Linked DNA regions of Homo sapiens: regions 1, 2 and 4 are each linked to region 3. Evidence: fine-mapped QTL for protein levels in blood plasma. Region 3 holds a variant in brackets. A gene starts in each other region. All regions are shown on their reverse strands.

Evidence for each region. A credible set is the group of variants that fine-mapping cannot tell apart. PIP is the chance, under the fine-mapping model, that this variant and not a neighbour inherited with it causes the effect. Protein levels are from antibody-based Olink assays in UK Biobank. Linkage for the fine-mapping came from a reference panel and not from the study's own genotypes, which makes the PIPs less certain.
Region 1: CR2 starts here. The variant in region 3 is the best candidate, but not a certain one, in a credible set for the plasma level of the CR2 protein (UK Biobank, PIP 0.70).
Region 2: it holds the start of FCRL1, and the variant in region 3 is the best candidate, but not a certain one, in a credible set for the plasma level of the FCRL1 protein (UK Biobank, PIP 0.58).
Region 4: TNFRSF9 starts here. The variant in region 3 is the best candidate, but not a certain one, in a credible set for the plasma level of the TNFRSF9 protein (UK Biobank, PIP 0.60).

The regions. Positions count from the first base shown.
Region 1 is chr1:207,447,767-207,455,499 of GRCh38, reverse strand. CR2 (complement C3d receptor 2) reads right to left here and starts at 1,172. Exons shown (of 20, transcript NM_001006658.3): 1 at 1,024-1,172. The coding sequence starts at 1,081. RefSeq lists silencers at 614-723, 1,104-1,333.
Region 2 is chr1:157,818,552-157,822,551 of GRCh38, reverse strand. It overlaps FCRL1 (Fc receptor like 1), which reads left to right and starts at 2,432. Exons shown (of 11, transcript NM_052938.5): 1 at 2,432-2,545. The coding sequence starts at 2,515.
Region 3 is chr13:108,303,536-108,312,187 of GRCh38, reverse strand. It overlaps TNFSF13B (TNF superfamily member 13b), which reads right to left. Exons shown (of 6, transcript NM_006573.5): 5 at 8,584-8,652; 6 at 3,710-5,362. The coding sequence ends at 5,250. Among named protein-coding and RNA genes, the nearest start is that of TNFSF13B, 38 kb to the right of the region's middle. The variant A/T (reference allele first, on the strand shown) is at 4,151.
Region 4 is chr1:7,938,617-7,946,673 of GRCh38, reverse strand. It overlaps TNFRSF9 (TNF receptor superfamily member 9), which reads left to right and starts at 5,835. Exons shown (of 8, transcript NM_001561.6): 1 at 5,835-5,890; 2 at 6,596-6,779; 3 at 7,846-7,953. The coding sequence starts at 6,680. RefSeq lists a silencer at 3,992-4,131.

The sequences.
Region 1 (7,733 bases), not on the chromosome of region 3:
ATGCTGGCTCCATAAAATCAAGTCTGTACAGGAGGCTTATTACTGATATTTAGTAGTAACGACTAACATCCAACTTTCTTTGCTTAGTTTCATCTGTGCTCAGGGCAGCTCAGTGAGGTGGAAGGCCAGTTAATCACTAGTTTCATTTTACAGATGAAGAAACTGAAGATCAGGGAGCTAAATGACTTGCCAAAAGTCACCCAGTTATTGAGGTCTGCACACAGTAAACGTCTTATAAACTAGGAATGCACGGTACCGTGGAGATAATTAGAAACTTAGACCCATCCTGTAGCCAAGAGACGCTAATCTTAATTATAATCTTTCTTTAAAATCAAGCCAATCTGGAGGAAAAAAAGATATAATAAACGGTGAATGAGACCTTTGCGGACGTCCACACCATTACAGTAGGTTAATAACAAGAAGAAAACAATAGTTTTAATCCATGTCTCAAAAATAACTACGGATGGTTAATGTTTAGGATCTCTACCAATATCACATTAGAGTTCAGAAAATCTGAGACCCATGCTTGGGAACCAGGTCTTACTCTTATTTAGGGAAGGGAGCCGAGGTTCTGCCGCTTTTGCTGGGCAAGAGCGCGGTTCGGGTGTACAGAAACAGCCTCACGTGGCTAGCTGGTGCCTCATGCAGTGGGTAGGTTTCCCGTGGCGAGCGGTAGCGCTGACCGCCGGCCAGAGAGCGATGAGCACCTGCAGAATCCTGGGGGCGGGGAGCCCGGCAGGAGACCGCGAGCACCCGCACGCCGCCAGCCACACCGGGCCGACCAGACAGCGCCCCTCTGTGGCGCAGCCTCCAATTCTGGAGGTCCCAGCTCCCGGAGGGGCCAGTGGGGACAATCAGGACCAGGCGGTTTATTGCAGTGGTCCCTCAAAGCTAGCGGGAGGCGGACACGCGTCGAGCACTGCCCCCACCGTCTCGCTTTTGGCCCCCTGCTTTGCATCGCGGCACAGAAACTTTCCCTGCCCGGGACGCGTCCCCACCTCCGTGCTCCCCCTCCCAGCTCACCGAGGACCCCCGGTGCGACGAGAGCCAAGAAAACCCCGAGCAGGCCCGCGGCGCCCATGCCACGGCCGAAGCCCCCGCGGCGGGATGCGTTCCGAGACCCGCGAGCGTCCGGCAGCTCTGGGAGGGCAAGGCTGGAGCAGCAAGCAGCTGTGAGCCAGGAGAGGCGGGCCCTTAAATAGTGTCCGGCACACGTGCTAGTTCTGAGCGCACACCTGCAGGCGGCCTGGGGGCTGACGCGGCGCCGGTGAGGGTGGGACAAGCGGGAGGGACGGCCCGGCACGAGGTGGGCGGGGAGCTCTGAGCCACTCTTTGGCTCAGACTCACCCCTCGTTGCGGTGGCTTCCCCACTTTTTTGACCACGCAACCCACTACACTCACTTGTTTCTCTTACTAGAACTTAAACAAAACTTTCACAAGTTAGTACTCACCCTTAGTAATCTACAATGTTCGTCCTCTGTGCCATGCTGTGTTATGCTAGACTAGGCTAGGCTATCCTATTCTTATTAGAAATCCACCAAACTCATTTCAAAACCTATTAGTGGATTCATCTCCCAGTTTGAAAAAGCAGTGTAAGTTTACTTAGGGAATTTAGGAACAGCAGCCACTTCTGCTCTGTTCTTTATTTTGAAGTAATCTCTACAGAAAAGTTTCAAGAGTACTGCAGAGAATTCCCATATACTTGTCACCCAGATTCTCTGCATGTTAACATTTTGCTGTATTTTCTTTACCATTCTCTATTCTTTCTCTATAGACATATATGTACATATATGTGATTATATAATTATAATTATATAATTATTACTTTGGAACCATCTAGCATTTATTCCTATTCTAAATGGTTCACTAAGGACTTTCTGTTCCATAACTAGAGTGCAATGATCAAAAATAAGAACTTAACATTGACACAAGACTATAAGCTACCATCTGTATTTAAATTTTGACAATCATCTCAATAACCTGTGTTATGGTAAAAACAATAACAACAATAGAAACCAACCTTTGTTTTTCCTGGTCCAGAATCATTTCAGGATCATGTATTGTGTTTGATCATTATGCCTTCCCCCCACCCCCAGTTCTTTATTCTGGAAAAATGTCCTCAGCATTTTTGGTATTGCATGACCTTTACATTTTTGACGAATACACCACAATTATTTTTGGAGAATGACTTTTAAGTCCGTTATCTATTATAATAACAAATTACCCTGAAGGTAGTGGTGTAAAGCAAGAATAAACATTTATGATCTCACAGTTTCTGTGGGTCGGTCAGGTGGTTCTGGCTTGGGATCGCTCAGGAGATTGCAGTTAAGACACCAGCTGGAGGTGCAGTCATCTGAAGGGTTAACTGGGATAGGCGAATCCACATCTAAGATGGCTCACTTACCAGCCTTTGGCTGGAAGCTTCATTCTTCACCACGTGGATTTTGCCATAGGGCTCGCTGCTTGTGTGTTGAGTGTCCTCGTGACATGCCAGCTAGCGTCTCTGAGAACAAGAAAGAAGAAGCCATAATGTCCTTTGTGACCTGTCCTCAGAAATCACAATATGTTAACTCCAGAATATCCAATTGATTGTACAGATCAGCCCTTTTCAGTGTAGGAGGGCAGTATACGTGGATGGTAATGTCAGGAGACAGGATCACACCCCACAATTTGGATTTGTCTATCATTTCTTCATGATAGATTCAGGTTATTGAATCTAATTATTTGACAGGAATACCAGAAAGGATGTCTTATCCTTACGGGGAGGCATATGTTGTCTATTTGTCCTATTACTGGTGGTGGTAACTTTGATCACTTAGTTAAGATGGTGCCTGCCATGTTTCTTAGTGTAGACTCAGTATTTTTCCCTTTGTAATTAATAAGTATTTTATAGGGAGATACTTTAAAACTATGTAAATTCCTCATTTTTTCATCAAATTTTTACCCACAAATTTTAGCGTCTATTGATGATCCTTTCTTGAATCAATTTTTACTATGATGGTTGTCAAAGGGTGTTTTTTCCTAATTTAATAATTACTTCTATATTCATCTGTTGGCATTTTACTGTAAATAAAAGTTTTCCCTTCTCTATTTATTTATTCATTTATCTATATCAGCATAAACTATATCAATATGAATTTTATTTATTTACTCAATGGGTCATAATTCATGGCTACCATTATTTATTTTGATGCTTAAATTCTCCCTGATCGGGCCAGTGGGAGCCCTCAAAATAGTTCCTATGTCATTTTGACTTGTTCTTATTGTTCTTTGAGCACTTCCTTACTTTCTGGCACACACACAAAAAAAAATGCTCCAGACTCACCTCTAGACCTGACACTGGAATTTGCTGTTTCTCCAAGGAATGCTGGTTCTTTCTGGCAGAGAATGGCATTTAGATGCCAGAATTGGATGCTAAGTGTGTTCATTTTTATTGGAGTATCATTGTTTCCGCACCCTCTCAGCAGACAGAGCAAGGATATGTATTATATATATATATGTATATCCATTCCCATATCTATATTTATATATGTCATGAATTCACAGTGATTCTTCCAATTTCAGTCCGTTAGCATAGAGTTCATTCTGTCCTTCCCTCTTTCTGCATGTGTAACTCCCTTCTTCAACAGTGAGACACCTAGATCCACAATATATTTACTTATTTGCTTAATCCTAGAATACACAGAAAGAAGTTTAAAATTGCTATTTCTATACTATGATGGAAATCAAATCTACTCGTTTTTAAAGTTTTATTTTGTTTATAGCCCGAAAATATAAAAACAGCATTGTTGTGTTCCAAAGTTACTCAGATTATTCCCCCTCTTCAGTGTGATTGTTATTCATTCAAAATACTGTTAATTTGTTTCTCTTTGTATTCTATTTTAGTTTCCCCTCAATCTTTTTGATTTTTTTTTGCTTAAATAAAACATTAACGTAGTCCCAAATGTCAGATTGATATAAAAAGACACAATAAAAGGGAAATGTCACTTCTCTCCATCACCTCTATCCTCTCCACCATAGGTACTCAATTTCAGTAGTTTCTGGTTTGTCCTTAGTTTTGCTCAAATGAGCTGCTACACATTTGTCTTCTTAGTTCTCCTTTTTTATTACATTTTAAAAGCATGCTATAGGTATTCTTTTGCACATTTCTTTTTTAACTTAACAAATATGCTGGAATCCACTATTTCCTACAAATTCAAATATTCCTCATTCATTTTTACAGTTGCATGCAATACTTCACTGTGTGGATATGCCATAGTTTATTCAACCATCTCCCTATGTATGGACAGTTTGGTTGTTTTTAATGCTCTAAAGAGTAACTTTGTGAATATTTATTTTTCTGCTGTTAGAAGCATGTCTTCAGTTCAAATTCCTAGAAGTGGGATTGCTGGGTCAAATGGTAAACACATATGTAGGTTTGTTAGATATTGCCAAATTTCCTTAATAAGAGTTGTACCACATATATTCCTACAAAACTGTGTGAGAGCACCTCATTAATCTAATGTGCTGTCATCATGGTTTTAAATTTTAGTCAGTCTAATAAATGAGACATTTTATCTCAGTGTAGCTTTAATTTGCATTCCCTATGAGTAACGCTGAACATTTATAAAATATATTTTTATCATGTATATTTGCCTTTTCCTCTCTCAATGTTTGAGACTTATTTATATATATTAGGATTGTTATTCTGGATGTGTTTTGCAAATGTTTCCTCCCAGTTTGTCAGTTGTCTTTTGACTTTGTTTATGGCATCGTTTTGCCTTGTAAGCATTGTCTGTTTTAATGCAGTCAAGTTGATAAATCTTTTCTTTTATTGCATCTGGATTAGGAGCCATGGTTTTAAAAACCATTCTCCAGGTTACACAATAATTCATCCATGTTTTCTTCTTGCACGTGTATTGTTTCATTTATTTTACAGTTAGATTCATGATTCTTTTCATGCTTATTCTTGTCTGCCCTCATAAATTTCCCAAATATATTTTTATTAATAAACACTTCTCAGCAACACAAAAACTCAACTCCTCTGTAGATGAGTGTGTTGGTGTCTAGTATCTTGCAGTGATCCTGTTTACATGTTTGTCAGGAAAAAAGAAATCACTGCCTTCTGCTCCAAACCCTCCAATAATTTCCTATCTCATTCAAAGTAGAAGGCAATGTCATAACTATGATCCATTCAGTCCAATGTGATCTGCTTTCCTTTAACTTCTCTGAGTTCATCTTTGACCCTTTTCTCCTTCTTTTCTCCCTCTGGCCACAATGGCCTTTGCTGCTCTAGTATTCTTTGCACTCTGACTGGGGTCCTTTGCCCTCGGAGGGTCTTGTTTGCTCTGTCCAGATTGTTTTTCTCCTGAATAGCCCCAGTGGCCAGCTCCCTCATTTCATTCTAGTCTTTACTCGAAGATACCTTCTCAGTGAGATCTTTCCTAGATATCCTCTTACACTTTTACCTCCCTTTCCATTCATATCCCCTTCTTTGGTCTATTTTTCTTCTCTTACTACTTAGCTCCATTGAACACATTATATATTTTACAATGACCTCATTTGTGTTTGTCTCTCTTACAATGTAAGATCCATGAAGGAAATATTTTGTTTTTTTGTCTGTCTGTTTCTCTATGTTCGAGCCCCCTAGTTCCATGAATATTGCCTGATCCATGGTAGACACTTCATAGAAATTTTTTGAATGAATAAATACACAAATCTCATGAGAAAATGGGGATTCTGCACAGAGTTTTCATCCTGTAATATGCTTAAGACATTAGACATACATCAAAAGGATTTTGTAGTTGTTTATAATAAACAAAATCCAGAGTACATACATGTTGGTGCCAATGGGGACAATTTTGAAAAAAAGGTAAATGGAACTAAAATTGGAGCAGTGATTTGTAGGTGTACACAAAGGAGGTTGTCCTGTGTTAATTTTTACTACAATTGACTAAGCTTTATATGCAGGGAGTTGCACAAGGTAGGCAATTTGACTTAAGATACTTGAATTAAGCCGAGTGCTGTTGTGGTCCTCTGGCTTCTAACTGAAGGAAACACATTCTTCTTCAGAGGAACCATCCTTCAGTTTTTTTGTATTGTTTTGTTAGAGACAGTATCTTGCTGTGTTGCCCAGGCTGGAGTGCAGTATCACTATCATAGCTCACTGCAGCCTCGAACTCCTGGGCTCAAGTGATCCTCTTGCCTCACCACAGTAGCTGGGACTACAGGCACATGCCACCATGCATGGCTATTTTTAAAGATTTCTGTAGAGACAGGGTTTCCCTTGTTGCCCAGGCTGGTCTCAAACTCCTGGCCTCAAGCAATCCTCCTGCCATGTCCTCAAAGTGCTAGGATTACAAAGATAGTTTTCAACAGATTAAAATCTACCACAAACATAAACTCATAAAAGATTTGGCCGGGTGCAGTGGCTCACGGCTGTAATCCCAGCACTTTGGGAGGCCCAGGCGGGCGGATCATGAGGTCAGGAGATCGAGACCATCCAGGATAACACGGTGAAATACCATCTCTACTAAAAATACAAAAAATTAGCCGGGCATGGTGGCGGGCTCCTGTAGTCCCAGCTACTTGGGAGGCTGAGGCAGGAGAATGGCGTGAAGCCGGGAGGCGGAGCTTGCAGTGAGCCGAGATTGCACCACTGCACTCCAGCCTGGGCGACAGAGCAAGACTGCATCTCAAAAAAAAAAAAAAAAAAAAAAAGATTTAATAAAATTTAACCGATTTTTAAAAGCCCTTTAAACTACAGAGAAATAGAAAAGAGTTCCCTTAGCCCTATAAAGATATTTGCAAAAAATACCTGCAGCAAATATCTTTCCTTATGGTAAAATATTAGAAGCATTTTGTTTTAAACTGAGCTCATTTTAAATCTTAAGAAGAGGATGCTTACTAAAAGTGCGTAATAGGAATAAATCTAACAGAATAGTTGAAGAATCTTTATGGAGAAAATTATAACATTTTATTCAGGTAAAGTGAATGTGACCTAAATAAATCAAGAAATAAGCACATTCATGTATAGGACAACTTGATTAAAAAATATATGAGCTCTCTACAAACTGATCAAATGTATAGTCAATGCAATTTTTGTCAAAATTTAACATTTTTAAAGGAACCTGACAATGTCGTTCTAAAATACATCATAGCAAAGGGACACAAACAGTAAAAGTGACACTTCCTGATACTTGTTCTAGTAGGTATCAAGACCTAAATTCTTAATATTTAGGATAGTGTGGTATTGATGAATGAGTAGAAAAATAGATTAATAAGAAAAAAGAGAAAGACCTCATATATAGAAAGTAGCTTCATGGCATGGGTAGTGCTGAAGATTGCTGGTGAAAGATGAGAGAGACTATTCAACAAATAATTTGGGGACAATTCATTACATATAATGGAATAATAAAATCAATCCAAACCTCATACATATTAATTCTATTCCCAATGGATGATGGCTTAAACATGAAAGGTAAGACATTAAAAAATGTAGAAGAACCTATATATGAGAGTACTTTTATGACCTTGGGGTAAGGAAATATTTCTTATAATAGACATGAAAATGCAAATGATAAAGGAAAAGTTTGATGGATTCAAGTATATTAACACTAAAAACTTCATTTGTTAAAATATATTATTACAAGAGCACAACCACATGACTTACATAAGACATAAGTCATCTGCAATACATATAACTAAAAAGGAGACTGTTATGTAGAACATGTGAAGAACTGCTACATACCCAT
Region 2 (4,000 bases), not on the chromosome of region 3:
CTTCTGGAGAGTACACGAGGAGTGGGTTAGAAAAGGCACACTCAAGTAGATGTAATAGTATCATGTTATGTTCAAGTTCTTTTTTTTTTTTTTTTTTTTTTTTTTTTTTTTTGAGACGGAGTCTCGCTCTGTCACCCAGGCTGGAGTGCAGTGGCGCGATCTCGGCTCACTGCAAGCTCCGCCTCCCGGGTTCACGCCATTCTCCTGCCTCAGCCTCCCGCGCAGCTGGGACTACAGGCGCCCGCCACCACGCCCGGCTAATTTTTTGTGTTTTTTAGTAGAGACGGGGTTTCACTGTGTTAGCCAGGATGGTCTCGATCTCCTGACCTCGTGATCCGCCCGCCTTATGTTCAAGTTCTTAAAACAGTCTGGGGATAGGCTCATGGCTTTTCATTTCATCGTAGTATTTCATAATTTATATTCATGTTACTTTTTTGTATGCATGCATGAACTATCACATTATAAAAATAAAAGTGTGAGAGAGCTTAACAAATAAAATGTTATAGCCTTTATATCTGTGGAGGAGGAAACACATTTTAATCTGAACATCTTGTGAAGGCACTGGAGCAGGACACACAGGAAGAGATGTGATGAGAATCAACCTAAGACCCCAACAACAGATGAATCCATAAAGAAAATGTGGTGTATATATACAACGGAATACCATTCAGCCATACAAAATGAAATCCTGTCATTTGTGACAACATGATGAAGCTGGAGGACATCATGTTAAGTGAACCAAGCCAGACACAGAAAGACAAATACCACATGAACTTACTTATATGTGGAATCTGAAAAAAATAAGAAGTTGATATTATGGAAGTATAGCATAGAATAGCATCTATCAGAGACTGAGGAGGGAATGAGGAGGGAAGAGAGGGAAAGATTGGTCAACAGGTACAAGGTGCCAATTCGATAGGAGGAATAAGGTTTGGTGTTTTATTGCACAGTAGGGTAACTATGGTTACTAGTAAGGTATTATATATTACAAAATAGCTAGGAAAGAGGCTTTTGAATGTTCTCACCACATAGAAATGAAAACTGCACGAGACAATGGATATGCCAACCACCCTGATTTGATCATCACTGTACAACATATATATGTATTATATTGCAATGTCAAACTGTGCCCCATAAATATGTACAATTACAATGTGTCAATTAAAACATTAAAAAAACCAACAGATTAAAAGAAAAAGAGAGAGATGAAACAGCAGAGTGTATGCAAAAACAGCTTTACACCCTGGATTTAAAGGGCTCTACATTCTCATTCAGGAGATTTTTTTGCATTGGTCCTGAAACTTTACACTAAACAAGCTTATCCCCACACAGGCTTTCCTAAGCCAATAAATAAAGCTATGGAATACCTATTCGTTTTCAGCACTTTCGCTGTTAGCCTGGTTACCAACATTGCTCCCTTTTCCCTCTGGTTTTGCGTATCACTGAATAGTTTCTTTTCTCAGTCATACTCATTGAGCTGGATACCTGGACTTAGACATCATTGCCTGACAGCATCTTTCCCCTAATAGGTTACTTTCCACACATTCTAGTTATTCTTAATCCTAGACACTCACGGATTTAAGAAATGTTGAAAATTAAGATAGCTTATTCTCCTCCAATCCCTAATCTAGGCTTCACTTGCCTAGAACTGGTATCCCTAATGTGCTAAAGGTAGCAATGGGAGAGATTATAGGTGCCCTGATTTTGAGGGAAAAGAGGGGCAATTTTACAAATGCCAGAGTTAGTACTAATGGTGAACCCTTCTCAAGTGCCCTGAAGCTAATTTGCATATACTTCTTTTCTGTATTTCATTTTCAAATATCCCCCAGATTGTAATTTGCCGTGATTTTATTTTTCAGTGATTTCATGCTCATTTACTGGTACACTGAAAGTTTGAATATCAAAGCGTATATCTGTATGAATAGGTTGACCCTGTACATAAGTCATCATATGCAGCAAGGGTCAGACACTACACATAACCGGGGTGACAGCCCCATCAGTCCCTGATTTAATGACATGTTTGCATAATATGACTATACTAGAGAAAGTTTGCATAGTGGGACTATATTGCTGAGCAAGAAGAATGTGCCAATTAGAAACAATCCAGGAGACATCCCTATCAAAGGTGAAAAGTATTGTAGATGTATCAAAGATGAATTTCAGCAGGACCATAACCTGATGAGACTCATCAAAGTAGGAAACTGCCTTTAGAAAACTTCCTTTGAAATACCTGAATTCTTGAAAAAGTCCCTCAAATATTGATGTGTACTATCTGCAGCTTGTGGAACTGAATCAAACTATATTTAAAAAGGAGCATCTTTAATTTTCTCAGACTTCATAGAAAAGGAAATGGAGACTGGTCACTAGAGGGTTCTTCTTCCTTCTACTTCTGCTGAAGGGTAACTTCCGATATCAACTTCCTCAAACCTCTGATGAGCTGCTGCTGCTCGACTCTGAGGTGCATTCTTTTTTTGATGAGAGGCATCTCTAGGTACCATCCCTGACCTGGTCCTCATGCTGCCGAGGCTGTTGCTGTTGATCTGTGGTGAGTTGGGCAACTCAGAGCAGGGCATGGGATGCAATCATGCTTGGGCTCTGCTTCCTGAAGGGCTGTAAGGACTTCTTAGGACTAAGGTTCTGTCAGGTAATGCTCAGGGGTGCTCAGATCTCCACTTCCACGGAGGGCTCAGAGTCAGGCAAAAAGTTGTAGATATTTCAAAAAGCCAGAGTTTTCAAGAAAACTATCATTTCAGTTTTTATCTCATAGGAAGTGTTCACTGTCTGTCTTCCTTTCCATCAATAATTGTCTTTGTTCTCAGTGTTTTCAACAGCTGCCAAAAGAAAAATCTGTATAATAAATAGGCCTCTGAATTCCTTGCCCTTCTTACTACCAACGTTATTTCCTTTTATCCCTCTCTGACTCCCCATTCCCACAGTCAAACCTTAGAACTTATCATCACTCCTTTGTTTTCAGCATACATCCCCCACCCCCACTAAGTTGTGTTTCTAGCTCACTTTCTCCTGCACTCTATTTCCAACATGACTTCAATTACCCCAGGGCTACTTTTCCATTATCAGTAACTACACTTCATGTGCTCACTTCTCATGGTGCTCAGCTCAGATTCTGCAGCTCACCACCACAACACTCCCTCGAGCACACCTTCATCTCTCTTCCCCCATAGCACTCTCCTGGTTTACACGCCCTTCTGCATGCTTCACTCCTGGACATAAACAGCTGAATGGGATTTTTTTTTAAATGCACAACCCTGATGACTTATCCCCTTTTAAGTGTAGGACCCCCAAATCTCAGGTAGCCAACAGCAATGCCAGGCAATTATCCTACATGTTCACAGTCCATGTTGCTCCATTATCACTATTGCATACCTTATCCTGTCACCTCATACTTCTCTGTTCACTCTCATTGTGTAATCTTGCTTCATATTTCATTGAGAAAATAAAAGCAGTCAGAAGAAAACTCTCTCATCTTTCTGTTGCTGTTGACCTACTCACCTCTGCATTCACATACACTGCCTTCTCTTCCCCTACCACGAATATATTGCCCCTCATCTTGTTGATGACAAGACTCTCCACTTGTGCATTAGGCCCATGACCCTCTTACTTTCTCAAAAAGTTTGCTCCATCATCAATATGTTTCTTCATTCTAAATTATTCCCATAAGTATACAAACATGCTACAGTATCTTTTATTAAAAACAGCTTTATTGAAATATTATTCACATATAATACAATTCACCATTTAAGTTATGCAATCCAATGGTTTTTTATGACAATCACTGAGTGGTGCAACTATCACCACAATCAATTTCAGAATGTTTTCATCACCCAAGAAAGAACGCCATACCCACTAGCAGGCATCCCCAATTTTTTTTCCAACGCCTCACCTATCCTCACCCCTCTATTTTCTGGCCACATGCAATCATTATCTACTTTCTGTCTCTCTATATTTGTCTATTCTGGACACACACCCCATATCTAACTGT
Region 3 (8,652 bases):
TTTTCTCACTCAGACTAAAAGCAATTCCCTCCCAATGCACAGCAAGTTCTTGCAGGCTCAGTGCCCTCCCCTCCTTAACTCTCTAGCTTCATCTTCTACTTTCTCCATGGATCACTGCTGTCCAGGCATCCTGGGACCACTGTGCTCCACAAACACACTGAAGGGATTTTGCTTTCCATTTCCTCTCTCTCAAATACTCTTCCCCATAAATCTTACTGTATTAGTCCGTTTTCATGCTGCTGATAAAGACATACGCAAGACTGGGCAATTTACAAAAGAAAGGGTTTTAATTAGACTTACAGTTCCACATGGCTGAGGAAGCCTCACAATCATGGCAGAAGGCAAAGAGGAGCAAGTTACGTCTTACATGGATGGCAGCAGGCAAAGAGAGAGAGAGTGTGTGCAGAGGAACTCCTCTTTTTAAAATAATCAGGTCTCGAGAGACTAATTCACTATCACAAGAACAGCATGGGAAAGACCCACCTCCATGATTCAATTGTCTCTCATTCAATTATCTACCACAACACATGGGAATTCAAGATGAGATTTGGGTGGGGACACAGCAAAACCATATCACTTACATTACCCTCTCCATGCCCTTCTTCAGTGAGGCCTTCCCTGACTGAAGGCTGTATGACATAGTGCTGAGGTTGAAGGACTTACAAATAAAGGACCTGAGTTCACATCTTGCCTTGCCATTTACAGCAAACAGCCAATTTATGTAGACTCTGAGTTTATGAAATAAGTCTATGAAATAAACTGAGTTTATGAAATAACTCTCATCTATGAAATAAGGAAATTAATAGTGGCTTGATATTTTGGAGTTGCTGGAAAATTGAAATAAATTAACACCTAGAAGAGTCTCTCACACAATATAAATACCTAATAAATATTCGTGATTGTTATTAAAGTATGCACCACATCTTCTTCCAGTAATGCCTTATGTCTGCTACTTGATTGGACTCCATAGTATTTGTTACCATCTAGCAAACCATATGTTCTGCTTTTTTTTTTTTTTTTTTTGCCCCCTTCCCACTAAATAATTACCAGGAATATTGCCTCGTAAATATTAGACATTCAATAAATATTATTTGAATAAATGTTAAAATGTCTAGACCCTTCAGTATAATATAGAAGTGGTAATAATAATCCAGGGATAATTATCTTGTTCTGGTTGCCAAGTTCACAAGATTTTTAAAGTTTTCTTTATTCTCACTTTGCTAAAAGTGTTTACCATAGATAAATATTGAATTGTTCTTTCTTTCTTGGATTTACTGAGGTGATCATATGATATTCTCCTTTAATATTTTGTTATAATCACTTACATCTGTTATTAATATAAATTTTCGCATATGGATCAAATCTAACATGGTTATTATGCATGCTCTTTTTAAATACACTGCTGAGTTCAATTCGCTAATGTTTTAAGACATATTTATGAGTAAGATTGGCTTGTAATTTTTACTTGTAATTCTGCCTTCAGAATGTTTTGGTATCAAGATTATAGAGGAAAATACAAGTTGAACTTGGGAGTATTCTCTTTTTCTTGTTCTCTAAAATAATTTACATAATATAGAAGTAGTCTACCCCTTGAATATTTGAGAAAATTTTCCCATCTTGGCCTGACCATTTTTGTATGTGTAAATTGTAAACTACTTCAACGTCTCTAACGGATTCATTTTTGTCTCTTTTATACTGATCAGTTTTGTCAATTTATATTTATCTAGGAATTTGTCTCTCATCTAATTTGCTGAAGTTTTTTGACAAAACGTTTTTTTTTTCATTTTTCTCTTTGGCATCTATACTTTTCTCCCCATATTCAATTCTAATATTGTTTATGCTGGCTTGCTGTATTTTTGTTTGAAAATATTGATAATGAAATATTTCACAAGAAACTTTGAGGTTTAAATATGATAAAATAAAAATACTTTATTTTTATGATAAAAGTATCATTACGTTTGTTTATGTCTATATTTATATTTATTTACCTCTATATAAATTTTTTGGTCTTATTGACCTTTTTAATTACCTGCCTTTTCCAGTTTCTGAATTTCTGCTCTTATCCTTAATTGCTTTCTTCTATTCCTTTGGCTTAGGTTTTTTTGTTTATTTTGTTTTTACCTTGCTTTTGTTTTGTCTTGCTTTTGTTTTTTTCTTGCTGTTGGTGCTTAGTTCATAACTTTCAGTCATTTTTCTTATATAATATAAGCATTTAAGTTTATAAACTCTATGTATGCACTGATTTTCCTACACCCCAGGGTTTCTTGTGAAGTATTTTGTCATCTAGTTGTAAACATTTTCTAATTTCCATATGCTTTCTGTTTAAGCCATAAATTATTTAGAAGTAATTTCTCTCCACTTTAATTTCCACGTGCATATTTTCCTTACTTTTTAATCACCAATTTCTTTTACTAATGATGCTGTAGAGGAACTGTAATTGTTATAAAGCCAACTATTTAAAATGTGCTGAATCTTGCTTTATAACTTAGCATGTGGTCAGTCTTCAAAGGGTCTGTGCATTAGTTGCTGTATTAATGTTAGTGTCTTGACTTTTACCCTTGTGCTGTAAGATGTTAACACTAGGAATATAAGTGAAGAATATAAGGGGTTTCATTACACTTTTCTTTCCCATATTTTTAAAAGTCTGAAATTACTTCAAAACAAAAAGTCAAAAAGTTTTAAAAACATGTAAAGTGATTAACTCAACGGTAAAGAATTTCCTCCCTTCTCTTATATCTATAATCCCACCTGTTGTCTTCATCACCATCATCAAACCTCAAATGGTGAGGATTATGAATTCTCCACTGCACCTTTGATGTGGTTTGGCTGTGTCCCCACCCAAATCCCATCTTGAATTGTAGCTCCCATAATTCCCATGTGTTGTGGGAGGGACCTGGTGGGAGATAATTGAATCATGGGGACCGTTTCCCCCATATTGTCCTGTGGTAGTGATAAGTCTCATGAGATCTGATGGTTTTATAAGGGGTTTCCTCCTCCACTTGGCTCTCATTCACTCTTTGCCTGCCACCATGTAAGATGTGCCTTTTGCCTTCTACTGTGATTATGAGGCCTCCCCAGCTATGTGGATCTGTGAGTCCATTAAACCTTTTTTCTCTATAAATTACCCAATCTTGAGTAAGCCTTTATCAGCAGTGTGAAAACAGACTAATACAACCTTCTAATTACAGCAGAGTGGGGGTCGGGCCCAAGATGTAATGAGGTTGCTGCCAACAAGATTGCCCTCAATGATGCCTTTCGTGATCCCTACAAGATGCTTGTCCTGGTGGAATTTCACCACCTCATAGTCAGCTCCTTAGGAGAAGAATGCTTGGCCTGCTATTAGCTTTTCTCAGTTATACATCTACTTAATATTATAAGTAATATATAAATACTTGATATTATACCAATAATATATACTTAATATTGTACTAAAAATCTCACAAAATATACTGTACTGTTGGATAAATTCAACTCTAAAGGTAATAACATAATTGATGTCGGTTCTAAAAAGTTTAAAATTAGGTAGTTAGACAGATACAGATGTGAACAGATTCTTTTTCAGATATGGAACATACTCACATTTCCAAACTATCATATCCTAACACAAATTAATTTATCATGTTTCACCTGATTTTAAAAATAACATTTAATTATACAGCGAGAATTCAAAAGGTGGGTGTTGCTAGACAAACTCAGTCAGACAATGAGGCAAAAGGCAATGAATGTTTTTATTTGTTAATCCACATTAGCAGCAACACCAGAAAAATCATTAACCACCCCACCTAGCATTGAAACTGACTCCACTTATCGCTTCTTCTTTTTAAATTATAATGTAAAAATGAATTGCAAAATATATTTTATTTGAACTTACTGAAGTCAAAATCATAGGAACCAGATATTTAAATAAAGTTTAAATCTAAAGTTTATATTTTAAACATAAAATTTAAATCGTTTGTTTTGAAAAGTATATCCTTGAAAAGTATTTTGATATAGATGGGAAGATTTTCATAGACTGGCATCTATTTTTCCACCTACTGTTTAATGAAGTAAACTGTTGAATGATGTAAACTGTTAAATGAAGTAAACAGTTAAAACTGATGACATAAAAGACAAGCAAAGCGAAGGAAACATGTTATAAAAGATAAGTATT[A/T]CAGCATTCTTAAGTATGGTACTTTATAAAATGAAAACCGGGATGCTGTCTTCTGAGATATCAACATATTTATAAGGAGCACATGCTATGTGACATACTTCAGGATGCCAAGAATTTTAATTAAAACTCAACTTCTATAAAGTGAATATAAAGCTAATAAGAGGAATATTTTTAAAGGTTGGGATATGTAAACTACAATAGCAGCAGTTTGAAACAGAAGAGCAAGAAATAAAGGGAAATTACATTACATTAGTATGAATGTATTCAGTAACTTCTGTTGGAGATTATGTGTTATATATGCACAATTCTAGTTATTTTTCAATCAATGCTTTATAGGCATAAATTGAAATTACCTGATATTAAAAGTTTCTGAAATTCACTATAGAAAATACACATGAGCATAAACAAATGAGGATATTCTCTCTCTCCTGTGAAAAAAATGTGTGGGTAATATATTACATTACAGATAGAAATTGTATACTTGAAATAACCATAAAAGACTTAAATAGTATATGGATACTATTTTCAGCAAAATTGTTTCATATTTAAATTTAAACTTTTAGTTATTTTTTCATGTGTCTAATGCAAGATTTCTAAAATTTTCATTTTTTACTTTTTATAATGTTAACTGAAAAGGAGGGAGTGCATTTAACATAAAAACAGAAGATGAATCCTGAGATTTCTCATAAATGTCTTAATGTCCTAGAGATGTGGGCACTTGCTCCATAGTAAATTATGGATGCCACGTTTTACAAAATCCTTACTGCCCCTTTGAATTGTGTCCTTCCTCCAAGATAAGAAGCTATGACTCAATTGTTCAACATGGAATTATAATGAAAAGCCTTTCTAGTTCTATCTTTCCCTAAATGGGCTCTATTTCTTGTAATTCACATGACACTCTTTGGCTGTGGCTGTCTGTTAAATTTCCTGTTTTGGACTAGTTTCAGCAAACCAAAACAAATAGCTCACAGAAAAGGCAATGGTAACTACTTTTTTTTTTTTTTTTTTTTTTTTTTTTTTTGGTATTTTCAGTTAGATTCTTTCTTCTTAGAGGTACAGAGAAAGGGAGGAAAATAGCTACAGACATGGTGTAAGTAGGTCACAGCAGTTTCAATGCACCAAAAAATGTGACATCTCCATCCAGTGATATTTGTGCATTTTCTCTTGGTATTGCAAGTTGGAGTTCATCTCCTTCTTCCAGTTTTGCAATGCCTGGGAAAAAATGATTTACAAGAACTATAAGTGGTTATACAACAGAAAAGAAAAGAATCTTAAATAAAACTATTTTGTTCTGTAAAAAAAAAATGTTAACATAGGCATTCACACTTCAAAATACACCAACGGACTTCTAAACCATTGCAATTATCTTAGCCTAAAAAAAAATTTAGAAGAAATAAGCAAAAGGAGTTACAACAGATATGTATGCATTTATCACCTACTCATTAAAAAATGGACTTCCCCAAAAGAAGCCCAATATATAACTTTTTAAACAATTAGGTAAATCATGGAACATCCCTTGATAGAATATTAAATTATTAGTGATGAGTTTTGTTTAATTTTGTTGACAGGGAAAGTTTTTATAATAATGTTAAATAAAAATGTGAAAAATTACACACACATATATATACTAGATATTCCTAATTATAGTTTTAAACATACAAATGAAAAGCATAAATATTAAAAACTGAAGAAAACACCATTTCTTAACATACCACATTCATTAATATAGTTTTTCTTGAGAGTCCCGACTATGGATTTAAGCATTATCTGGATTACTTTTCACAACCTCTTATATTTTGTTTTCTTAGATGACCATGTTTGTCTTTATAATCAAAAACAACAGTGTAATTAACTCTTCAAAAATGACTAATAAATCTGTGTGCAACTAATTTACAAGGACAAATGCATCTGTGAATTAGTAATACAAAATACATTCAGGGACTACACTCAATGTATCAGGTAATTATTTACCCCACTTCAAAACAAAAATATGAAGAAGAAAGAGGAGGAAATGGGGGAAGAGAAGAAATAAAGAAACTAACAAACATTAAAACTGTCATCTGAATTGTCAATACTTGTGGCTATTTTTAGAATAGTTTCATTGTTTCATTAGCATAGTGAAAATGTACCTACATAAACACATGTATGTTCATGTCTATTCTAACCTAAAGCCCAAAGCATGCAAATTTGCTCAGGCAGCAGCCAGGGGGAGTTTATTTATTGAACATTTACTATGTACCAGCCACCCTTCTAGACAAACACACAGTAGTGATCAAGGATGACAGAATTTCCATCCCCACTGGGTATGCTTTTTTGTAATGGGCAAAGACAGAATACAAGCAAAAGAAAGTTTTTCAGGACTTATTAAAGGTTATGTGTACACTTTCTAGAATTGACAAAGCCTTTGAGGACTACCTTAAGTAGTAAGAATAAAAAGATTGAGATTTATTTGTTGAACAGACTTGTCATTTTCATAGAGATTGGAAATGACCTAACATTTTGACAAAGACCATAGCTCACAAAGCATTAAGTAATATTAACTCTAAGGATTAGGTGGGTGTGAACAACTATAGAGTCCATTTAACATTTTAACACTAAATTATCGGCTACTTCAATTCTTCCAGATTACAGCAATCAGGTATAATTTTTCTAATAAACATTTTATTAATACAATAAATAATAAGATTCAGCTTTAGGTATATAAGTGGTTCTTTGGTATTATGTTGGGTTTCTTAAGTTGGCCATTTACATCTTTTCAGGTTGCTATGGAAACATTTTATGTACTTATATATACTCTAATGTGTGGTTTTAAATGGCTTTAAATAAATTTGCCCTAAAACAGATTAAAATTGCAAACCTGAAACTTACTAGAGGATGGTACTCATATACAACAGTAAGCTACTAGTAATGAAAAATATTTTTAAAGTCCGGTGAATTATTCTTAAAAAGTAAGACACCTTAAGAAATCTAGCAGAGTCCTCTAACAGCAAGTAAGTGTTAGAGGAGCAGATGATTAGAAAAACGTTTTAAAGAGTTACTTGTAAAATTTTTAGTACTAATAAATATAAATAAATAACAGATTGGAGTAGTCTCACCATTTATAAATATTTTGCAACTCCAAACTACTAGTCAGCACTGGGTGAAGGGAAACATCTCTTTATGAAAGTTAGGGAATTCTAATTTTATAAACTTCCTCATCTCCCCACCAATGCTATCTGTGGCTGCAGATCCAGAATGACATCATTTCCATTATTAGAAACTATTTTCCTTAGTTTCTAACTGACTTATTGGGCATTTGTTTGTAAATGCCTTTGAAATACAGTTTTTCAAAATGCATAGCCAGCCTCCGTTCCTGTGTGTCACACGGTCATTCACGGTAACCATCTGGAACTGAAGCCATTCCTCAGGGTTCTGGATTTTTACAAAATCAACAGAGAAAATAAATGTGTTTAAGGTAAATATTTTTCTGCAAAACCAGCCTGGATTAATTTTAAATCACCCTTGAAAAATAAAATGAAGGAAATGTTGGCAATTACAGCTGAAACAGACCTAAAGTTTACAAGATCTGCCGTGCTCTCTGCCTCTCACTGCTCCTGGGTGCAAAGGTAGGTTTGCGCCTACACTTTCGCATTCCTAAGTCACCTGTCTGGTGTCCACTGACACAAGATGTCATCTGAATTGTCAATACTTGTGGCTATTTAGAAAGAAGCCATTGTACAACTTTCCCTTACCCTCAAACCTGGCCAGGGGCATTTCTCCTGTCTGGTGTCCACTGACACAAGATGTCACCTGTATTTAGAAAGAAGCCATTGTACAACTTTCCCTTACCCTCAAGCCTGGCCAGGGGCATTTCTTCCACAGCATGCAAGAAGAGTTTTGGTTGCTCCCGGTGCGGAGCCAGACTGGCTGGTTTAAACCAAGTCTAAAAATTAGCTGTGTAACCTGGGACAAGTTATGTTACTTCTCTGTGCCTAGATCCTAACTCCCTTAAATGCGAAGATTAAATAAGCAAGCATATATAACATGCAGAAAAGAGTGCCTGGCAAGTGGTAATCACTCTATCCTTGTCAGATATTATTATTGTTGTTATTAAGTGTTGAAGAAAATACATTAGAATTTTTTCTCAATGTAGAAGTTACTATGTAGAAGTACTATGTACCATGTATTATGTACAAGGTAGAAGTTGCTATGAAATTACTACCCTTTCTAAATGTATATAAAAATGGTAAAACTATTAGTAATAATTCCATCTTTCTCAATTAAAACAGACTAGCTTATTATTCAAGATTTAAAAAACACAATATATTGAGGAATGTCTTTCTGTCTATTTGTATTTTAGGGCACCATCCTTTCATTTTTGCATTTTGCAGCTCAGATTTTTCGTCAAAGTCTCTTCATTTCACAATTAGCAGGGTGTGAGAACTAATATTTACCAGCTGAATAGCAGGAATTATTGGGTAGTGTTTCAGGCATATTTTGAATACATCGAAACAAAGTCACCA
Region 4 (8,057 bases), not on the chromosome of region 3:
AAATTAGCCGGGTGTGGTGGCACACACCTGCAGTCCCAGCTACTTGGGAGGCTGAGTGGGGAGAATCGCTTGAACCCAGGAGGCAGAGGTTGCAGTGAGCCGAGATCACACCACTGCACTCCAGCCTGGGTGACACAGCGAGACTTCGTCTCAAAAAAAAAAAAAGACACACATAGTTCATAAATAATTGTATTTTTATCTAGAAAATTTATTTTTTTGCTTTCATTTCATTTGTTACAATAGATAATTTCGCATAATTTGTGTTTGGACAGTAATGACTTAAAGGATTAAGAAATAAAATATAATTGTACTTAACATATACAGCATTTGTATGTATTTAATATAATGTGTGAATTTGAGTATGTAAAATTTTAAATTTGTTTTTACATTCGTTTTTTCATTTTTCTAAAAGTTCCAAAAGTATTAGAATTAAAAACAAATTATAGTGGATAAATATCAAATATTTAAAACTTATTTTTATTAAAGAACTGAGATTTTTAATCTTTTGAAATTTAAATTGTTTTAAATATTTTTATAAAAATTGAAATTGTCATTCTGGGTCTCAGTCCTAGGTGATTCTAGTAAAGAATTAATGCTGCAGTTCTTATTCTACATATTACATATGTGCATATTCAAGAATAATATGAATTGTTTAATATTACAAAGTCTTCCTCAGACTTTGTGCATAACTGCTGTGAATTCCATGGCAATATACAAGAACTTCCAAAACCACCAAGTGGGCCATAAATTGGATCAAGCAAGTGGATAACCAGCCTGAGCAACATGGCAAAACCCCTTTCTACAAAAAAATATAAAACTTAGCTGGGCAAGGTGGTGCGCACCTGTAGTCCCAGTTACTCGGGAGGCTGAGGCAGAAGAATCCCTTGAACCCTGGAGGCAGAAGCTGCAGTGAGCCAAGATTGCACCACTGCACTACAGCCTGGGTGACAGAGTGAGACCCTGTCTCAAAAAAAAAAAAAAAAAGGATACTTGGGACTGTAGGGAAATACCACTGTCTGTGATATTCTTGCATAATAATAGATTATACAAGAATCTGTTACACCCTTGGTATCTGAGATGGATTTGACAAATCTACTTGCCTTTTGTCTGCCTGGTACTTCTATGGCTCACACCCTCCCTGCCGTTCTTGGAGGCAACAGCACAGCTCACAACTCTCACAGCACGGTGTCACCCTCAAATGGAGTTTCAAGGACATGGATCCAGGGATGTGGGGGAGTCTTCACCCAGGCCTGGCAGTGTGGGTCCAGAGAGCAGATGGAGCCGAGTTAATGCATCCCTATGCCAGCACCGTGCGCCAGACACCCAGTCACAGACGCAGCTCTGTGTTCATTGTGTTTGTGTGTTTGTGTCTCTGCTCTGGACAGAACATACTTAACAGCGTATTTGGATTGATGAACAATTTCTAAATATTTGGACACATGGTAAGCAGGCCTCTGTTTGTACTCTTGTCCTGGGGACTGCACAGTGTTGGGGGTGGTCTGAAGTTGGAGACAACTATTGATAAGCCTTAGCATATGAGTGGATGCCACCTGGAGAAAGGGCAGAACAAGGAGGAAAGGTGAGCAAAGTCGATGGCTGCTGACACCCGCCTCTCCTTATGATTCGTACTTCCTTCTCCTTACTCTGCCTCCTTCCTCTTTGATTTCCTGCTCATTTTCTTTGTTCCAAGTTTAAAAACAATTTACTCCTTCCCAGGCCTCAGAACACCTACTGACATCACAAGCACCAGGTATGTCTAATAGTGACTACTAGTTTGGGTGTTTGGAGTAGGGGTGGCGACACTGAATCTTGAAAGAATAGATCTTTCAGGCAGAAAACAAGTGTAAACAGTGAATATCCCACGGAAGAGATTCCCTCTAAGATGCGCCCTGGAAGGGCGGAAGAATATTTTATAGGAAGCTTATTTTGAGGGCTTTCTCTTTCTAAATGTCTCCTTTATCCTGTTTAGAATTGTTGGGCCTTCATGCTATTTAGCCTCAAAGTATTTAGCTGCTTGAGATATTCAAGATTAGACCTATAGTCAATCAAAATGAAATAAAATCTATTTCTTGGTTTATTTATTTATTTATTTTTTTTTTATTTTATTTATTTATTTATTTTTTTGAGATGGAGTCTCGCCCTGTCGCCCAGGCTGGAGTGCAGTGGCACGATCTGGGCTCACTGCAAGCTCCGTGTCCCGGGTTCACGCCATTCTCCTGCCTCAGCCTCCAGAGTAGCTGGGACTACAGGCACCTGCCACAACGCCTTGCTAATTTTTTTTTGTATTTTTAGTAGAGATGGGGTTTCACCATGTTAGCCAGGATGGTCTCGATCTCCTGACCTTGTGATCCTCCCACCTCAGCCTCCCAAAGTGCTGGGATTATAGGCATGAGCCACTGCACCCGGCCTATTTCTTGGTTTAGAATGAGATGCTTAGGATGTGATGAAACAGATTATTAATACTGCTTAGGATGGATGAAACATATTATTAATATTATTAATACTGCTAAAGTGTTGCTGTCTTGTCGGGGTCATCTCTGATTTAGTTTGAGATGGTTTTATGGAATAGAAAAAGCTTTTGTTGCATTTGAAAGATTACAGGGCTACAATGGATAAAGCAATATGATACATGTTATAAAGCAAATGAAAATTATACCAAAAGAGTATTACACCTTTGGCTAGCTTAGATAGTATGTATATCTGGTTAACTATATAATTTGACTTAGCTTACTACGATGATTTTATACCACACAAAAATGCATGCAGTAACATGAATTCTTTTTTTTTTTTTTTTTGAGACAGTCTAGTTTTGTTGCTCAGGCTGGAGTGCACAGGTGCAAACATGGCTGACTGCAACCTCGACCTCCCAGGCTCAAGCAATCCTCCCATCCCAGCCTCCCAAGTAGTTAGAACCACAGGCACATGCCACCACACCCAGCTAATTTTTGTATTTTTTGTAGAGACAGGGTCTGGGCATCTTGTCCAGGTCATCTTGAACTCTTGGGCTCAAGCGATCCTCCTGCCTCAGCCTCCCTAAGTGCTGAGATTACAGGTGTGAGCCACTGTTCCCAGCCATGAATTTTTTAAACGCCTGAGTAAAGTTGAGCATAGCCTTCAGTAGCAGAATTCTGAAGTGGTTGACTTTGTTTAACTGTGGGCTGGCAAAACTAATGTTGAGACTCTTTTAGCTCAGTAAAGACTCTTATGTTACTGGCATAAAAGCCTGAAATAGTGAGCTAATTACTGTGCTGGGAAACTAAATATGTCACTTTCAGAGGAAGTAATGTCTCTGCCTACAGAATGTCCAAAACGTAGACTAGTGAGTAGCATTTAGTTAAATGAAATATGGCCCAGTTAAATGTCACACTGCAATGTTAAACAGAGTACCACATGTAAACAAGGAGATTACTTGGTTAGATGGTGACTTTCAAAGTGTTAGGAGGGGATCAGCAGTCCGATTTTTATGGTGTGACACTCTCACATTCAGCCAATTTCTGCCAAAGTGGGGCAAGGAGGGATCCCACAGATGTCACAGGTAAGATAACTCTCAGATGACCGTCAGTATTTGGGAACACATTTTGCAGGCAGCTCATGCGTTTTTCTCCTTTTCTGTCATGACTTGCCCTGTGGTGGCTCTACTGATGGTCAGTGTGGGAGGCAGGGAAGGAACATTTCAAACCAGTAAGTCTGATCATAGCAATTCCTACTTTCTTGAGAACTATGTGCCAAGCATTGAGCTAAGTATTTCATGCTCATCGTCTCATTTAATCCTCACTCACGAGGAAGATGTATGGTGTCACTGCACCTGTAAGATGTGCTTGCAAAAACAGAGTTAGGGAGGTTGAGAAATTTGCTCAAGATTACACAACTGAGGCAGGAGAATGGGGAACATGAGGCGTGAGAGAGCAAAGGGAATAAAAATCACTGGGAACCGGTAACCCCCCTCACCCCCGAGAGTGGCCAGGGAGAGAGAGGCTGCCTGAGGGAAGGAAGCTCGGCAGGACCCGCTGCAGACCCAGGGCCAAGGGAAGTCCCGCGGGAGGAAACGCGGGCGCGGTGGGGCTGGCTCCAGGCACGCGGGCCAAGGGCGGGAGGGTCGGACACGAAGCCACAAGGCTCCTTTCCTTCCTCCTCCTTCCCGTCTGCCTTCTTCTGCTTCTGCGGCCTGATCTCCGAGTCCCTCTGCCTGCAGGCGGCGGCAGAACGTCCGCATCTGTCCGCATCTCAGCGCTGTCCCCCAACCGAGTCGCGCCGCGTTTTCCTCTTCTGTCGGGAGAGCTCGTGCTGGGAACCGCGGGGCAGGAGGACGGCCCAAGCTACTCTCGATGTCCTTCCCCAGCCCACGCCTGCCCCAGCCACAGTTCCCCTGGTTTTCCTGAGGTTCTCCAGCTGCTCAATGATGGGCAGGTTCATCTACAGCCTGGAGCAGCCGCCTCCTCCTCCTCCTCCTCCTCCTCCTCCTCCTCCAGAAACACCCCTTTTTCCTTCTCCTCATTCTTCCTTCTCATTCTTTCTCCTCCTCACTCTTCCTTCTCCTCATTCTTCCGTCTCATTCTTTCTCCTCCTCATTCTTCCTTCTCCTCTTCCTCTTCCCCTTCTCTTTCTGTTCTTTTCTTCTTCCTCCTCCTCCTCCTTTTCTCTTTATTTTTCTCCTCCTCCTCCTCTTCTCCCTCTTCTTTCTCCTTATACTCCTCCTCTCCTCTTACTGTACTTTTTTTTCCTTCTGCTTTCTCTGCCCTCCTCTTCCTCTTCTTCTTCTTCTTCTTCTTTTTTTTTTTTTTTTTGTGGCTGGAGTGCAGTGGCGCAATCTCGGCTCACTGCAACCTCTACTTCCCAGGTTCAAGCGATTCTCCTGCCTCAGCCTCAGTAGCTGGGATTAAAGGGGTCCACCGCCACCATTCCCTGCTAATTTTTGTAATTTTAGTAGAGACAGGTTTTTGCCATGTTGGACAGTCTAGTGTCAAACTCCTGACCTCAGATGATCCATCCACCTCGGCCTCCCAAGTGTTGGGATTACAGGCATGAGTCACCGCGCCTGGTCTCTTTCTCCTTTTTTTTTTTTTAAAGAAAAATTGAAATCATGGTTTTCTAAAAATCCCTCCTAGCTCTCAGCTTCACCGAACCACGTCCTGGTCATTGACTTGCCGTGTGACTGCTGTGCTTCCCCTGTTTCCATTTCCCTCCATTTCTCCCTCCTTCCTCCCTCTGTCACCCATGCCCGGAGGAGCACGATAAGGGACCAGGCCGACCTGGGTTCCAACCCTGCCTGCTCCCTGTCCTGTTGACGCTCTAATTCCACTTGCAGCCCCACTTTCCTCATTTGCATAGTGTTCTCCCAGTAACAACAGCAGTCATACCAAGTTCTAGGGTTCTTTCGAGGATAGTGTGTATTCACCGCAGTGCATCTCTGATGCCTGGCACATCGGCTGTGCTCAAGTAATGGCAGCTATTGCATTACAGTGACTATGGAGTTAGGGGACCGCATATGGCAAAATGCTGATCACTGTTTTGAATTTGGTTTCATTCCTCTAATCTCAAATCCAGTGTTTTAAGGACATGCTAAATGCTTTGTCCTGGAGAGCTATCTTAAGGGACAAAATCGTTTTCCCAGCGTCATCTGTGACACATCCTGACAGTAGAGAGCTGCTTCCAAGAAGCAATTTGAAGTGCCATTATCAGGCAGGGACGGGGGCTCTAGGGGATTTCGGGGTCAGCAGATATGAAATGAATGATTTCATAGGGCTGTCACAGAGCTGTGGTGGGAATTTCCCATGAGACCCCGCCCCTGGCTGAGTCACCGCACTCCTGTGTTTGACCTGAAGTCCTCTCGAGCTGCAGAAGCCTGAAGACCAAGGAGTGGAAAGTTCTCCGGCAGCCCTGAGATCTCAAGGTCTGTCCATCTGGGGGAGTGGGTGGGGGCACTGAGAAGGGGTGAGATTGGAACTTTTGCTCCCTTTGCCCATTTCTAGACTTTTTCTCCTAATATGTAATAACTTCTCTTCAATAGCCCTTTAAATAAACATCAATAACTTAGCCTGAAGAGTTTTTCACTCCTTAGTTTTGTTACCATACAAACTTCACATCTCAAAACATGTCTCTGTTTAAGAAAATGTGTTAGTGAGTTGAACAGGGAGGTCTTTCCACATGTTAGTAGTTAGGTGTTCAGCTAAAGGGGGAAGAGTGATTATGTGATAGCTTCTTCTTGAACTGAATTGTCTGATGCCCCTGACAGATTCTCTTTGTAAGGAGTTTATTTCAGGGGCAATAAGTAATTGGCATTATTGCTGGTTGGTACTGCAAAGTACCTATGAAAGTCCCCAAAAGTTCTTGCTATTGTTATTTCTGCATTTTGGCAGAACATGATGGAAAATGCACCCTCAAACTTTGGCAAACCGGCACAAAGCTGTGTGTTTAATCACGCCTGCCTTGTCCTAGTGGTTTCTATGAATCTGCTACTTTTCCGTAATATTGCATCATTAATTGTTCCTGAAAAACCCTGAGTTATCCTCTTATAGAATTGTATAAGTAATGATTGCAATATAGATAATTTTGAAAGGAGAAACCACCTTTCCTTGGAAATGTTTATCTTTTGCAGAGTGACATTTGTGAGACCAGCTAATTTGATTAAAATTCTCTTGGAATCAGCTTTGCTAGTATCATACCTGTGCCAGATTTCATCATGGGAAACAGCTGTTACAACATAGTAGCCACTCTGTTGCTGGTCCTCAACTTTGAGAGGACAAGATCATTGCAGGATCCTTGTAGTAACTGCCCAGCTGGTGAGTACCCAGTTATCATGTGCATTTGATCTGCTCTGTTGGAAGTATGGTTCAGTTAGTCTAGTAGTCAGGGCTAACGAGCTCCCTTTTAAGGAAAGGAAAATGAAAATTCATTCATTTACAAATGTTTATTGGATGCTACAACCTAGCTGTGTGAACACAGCAAAGTCATTCAACCTCTTGTGCCTTGACTTTCTCATCTGGGGATAATAAGAGAACCTGTTTTATAGGATGGCTGGGAGGATCAAATGAAGGGCTTAGAACAGTGCATGGCACAAGGCAAGACTTCAATAAATGTTAGTTTTGTGTGTAGGGCTTTGTGCTCCGACTGGGGGCATAGCAGCGAGTAAGCGCGTAGTAAAGGGCTTAACAGAGTGGGGACGGTCAGTCGCATTTAAATTTTAGTGTAGGACATTGATGTCCTCCTGGATCCAGTCATATTCATCTCCTACATCAATCAAGATAATCATTTTGTTTTATTCAATAGATAAAGTATTTTCTTTCTGTTGATTTATTTGTTACAATATCTGGTTTTTTTGTTTTTTTTGTGTGTGTATGTTTTTTTTTTTTTTTTTGAGACACAGTCTCACTCTGTCGCCCAGGCTGGAGTGCAGTGGCACGATCTCAGCTCACTGCAACCTTGGCCTCCCAGGTTCAAGCAATTCTCCTGCCTCAGCCTCCCGAGTAGCTGGGATTACAGGTGTGCACCACTGCGCCTGGCTAATTTTTGTATTTTTAGTAGAGACAGGATTTCACCATGTTGGCCAAGCTGGTCTTGAACTGCTGACCTCAGGTGATCTGCCCGCTTCGGCCTCCCAAAGTGCTGTGATTACAGGCGTGAGCCACTGCACCTGGCCTGTATTTTGTTATTTCTAATTCTGTGATTACACAAAGAATAATCTTGCAAATGTATTGTTTTAGGAAGTCAATCAAACTAATGTCCACCACTGTGGCATCTAGAAAACTCATCATTCTTTTATAATCTTATTTTATTGTAAACTTCGGAATGCCTTGGGTGACGATTGCCCATTGTCAAACGTGTACCACTATTGTCTGCCTTTCTTAGGTACATTCTGTGATAATAACAGGAATCAGATTTGCAGTCCCTGTCCTCCAAATAGTTTCTCCAGCGCAGGTGGACAAAGGACCTGTGACATATGCAGGCAGTGTAAAGGTATGAGTTCAAAGATATTTTCTTCTTCTAGAAGATAGTTGGGAAGATAAGCTTTTCTTTCCCATTTACTAACTGCTCTCTTTTGAAAATCTCAAGTGTCAAAG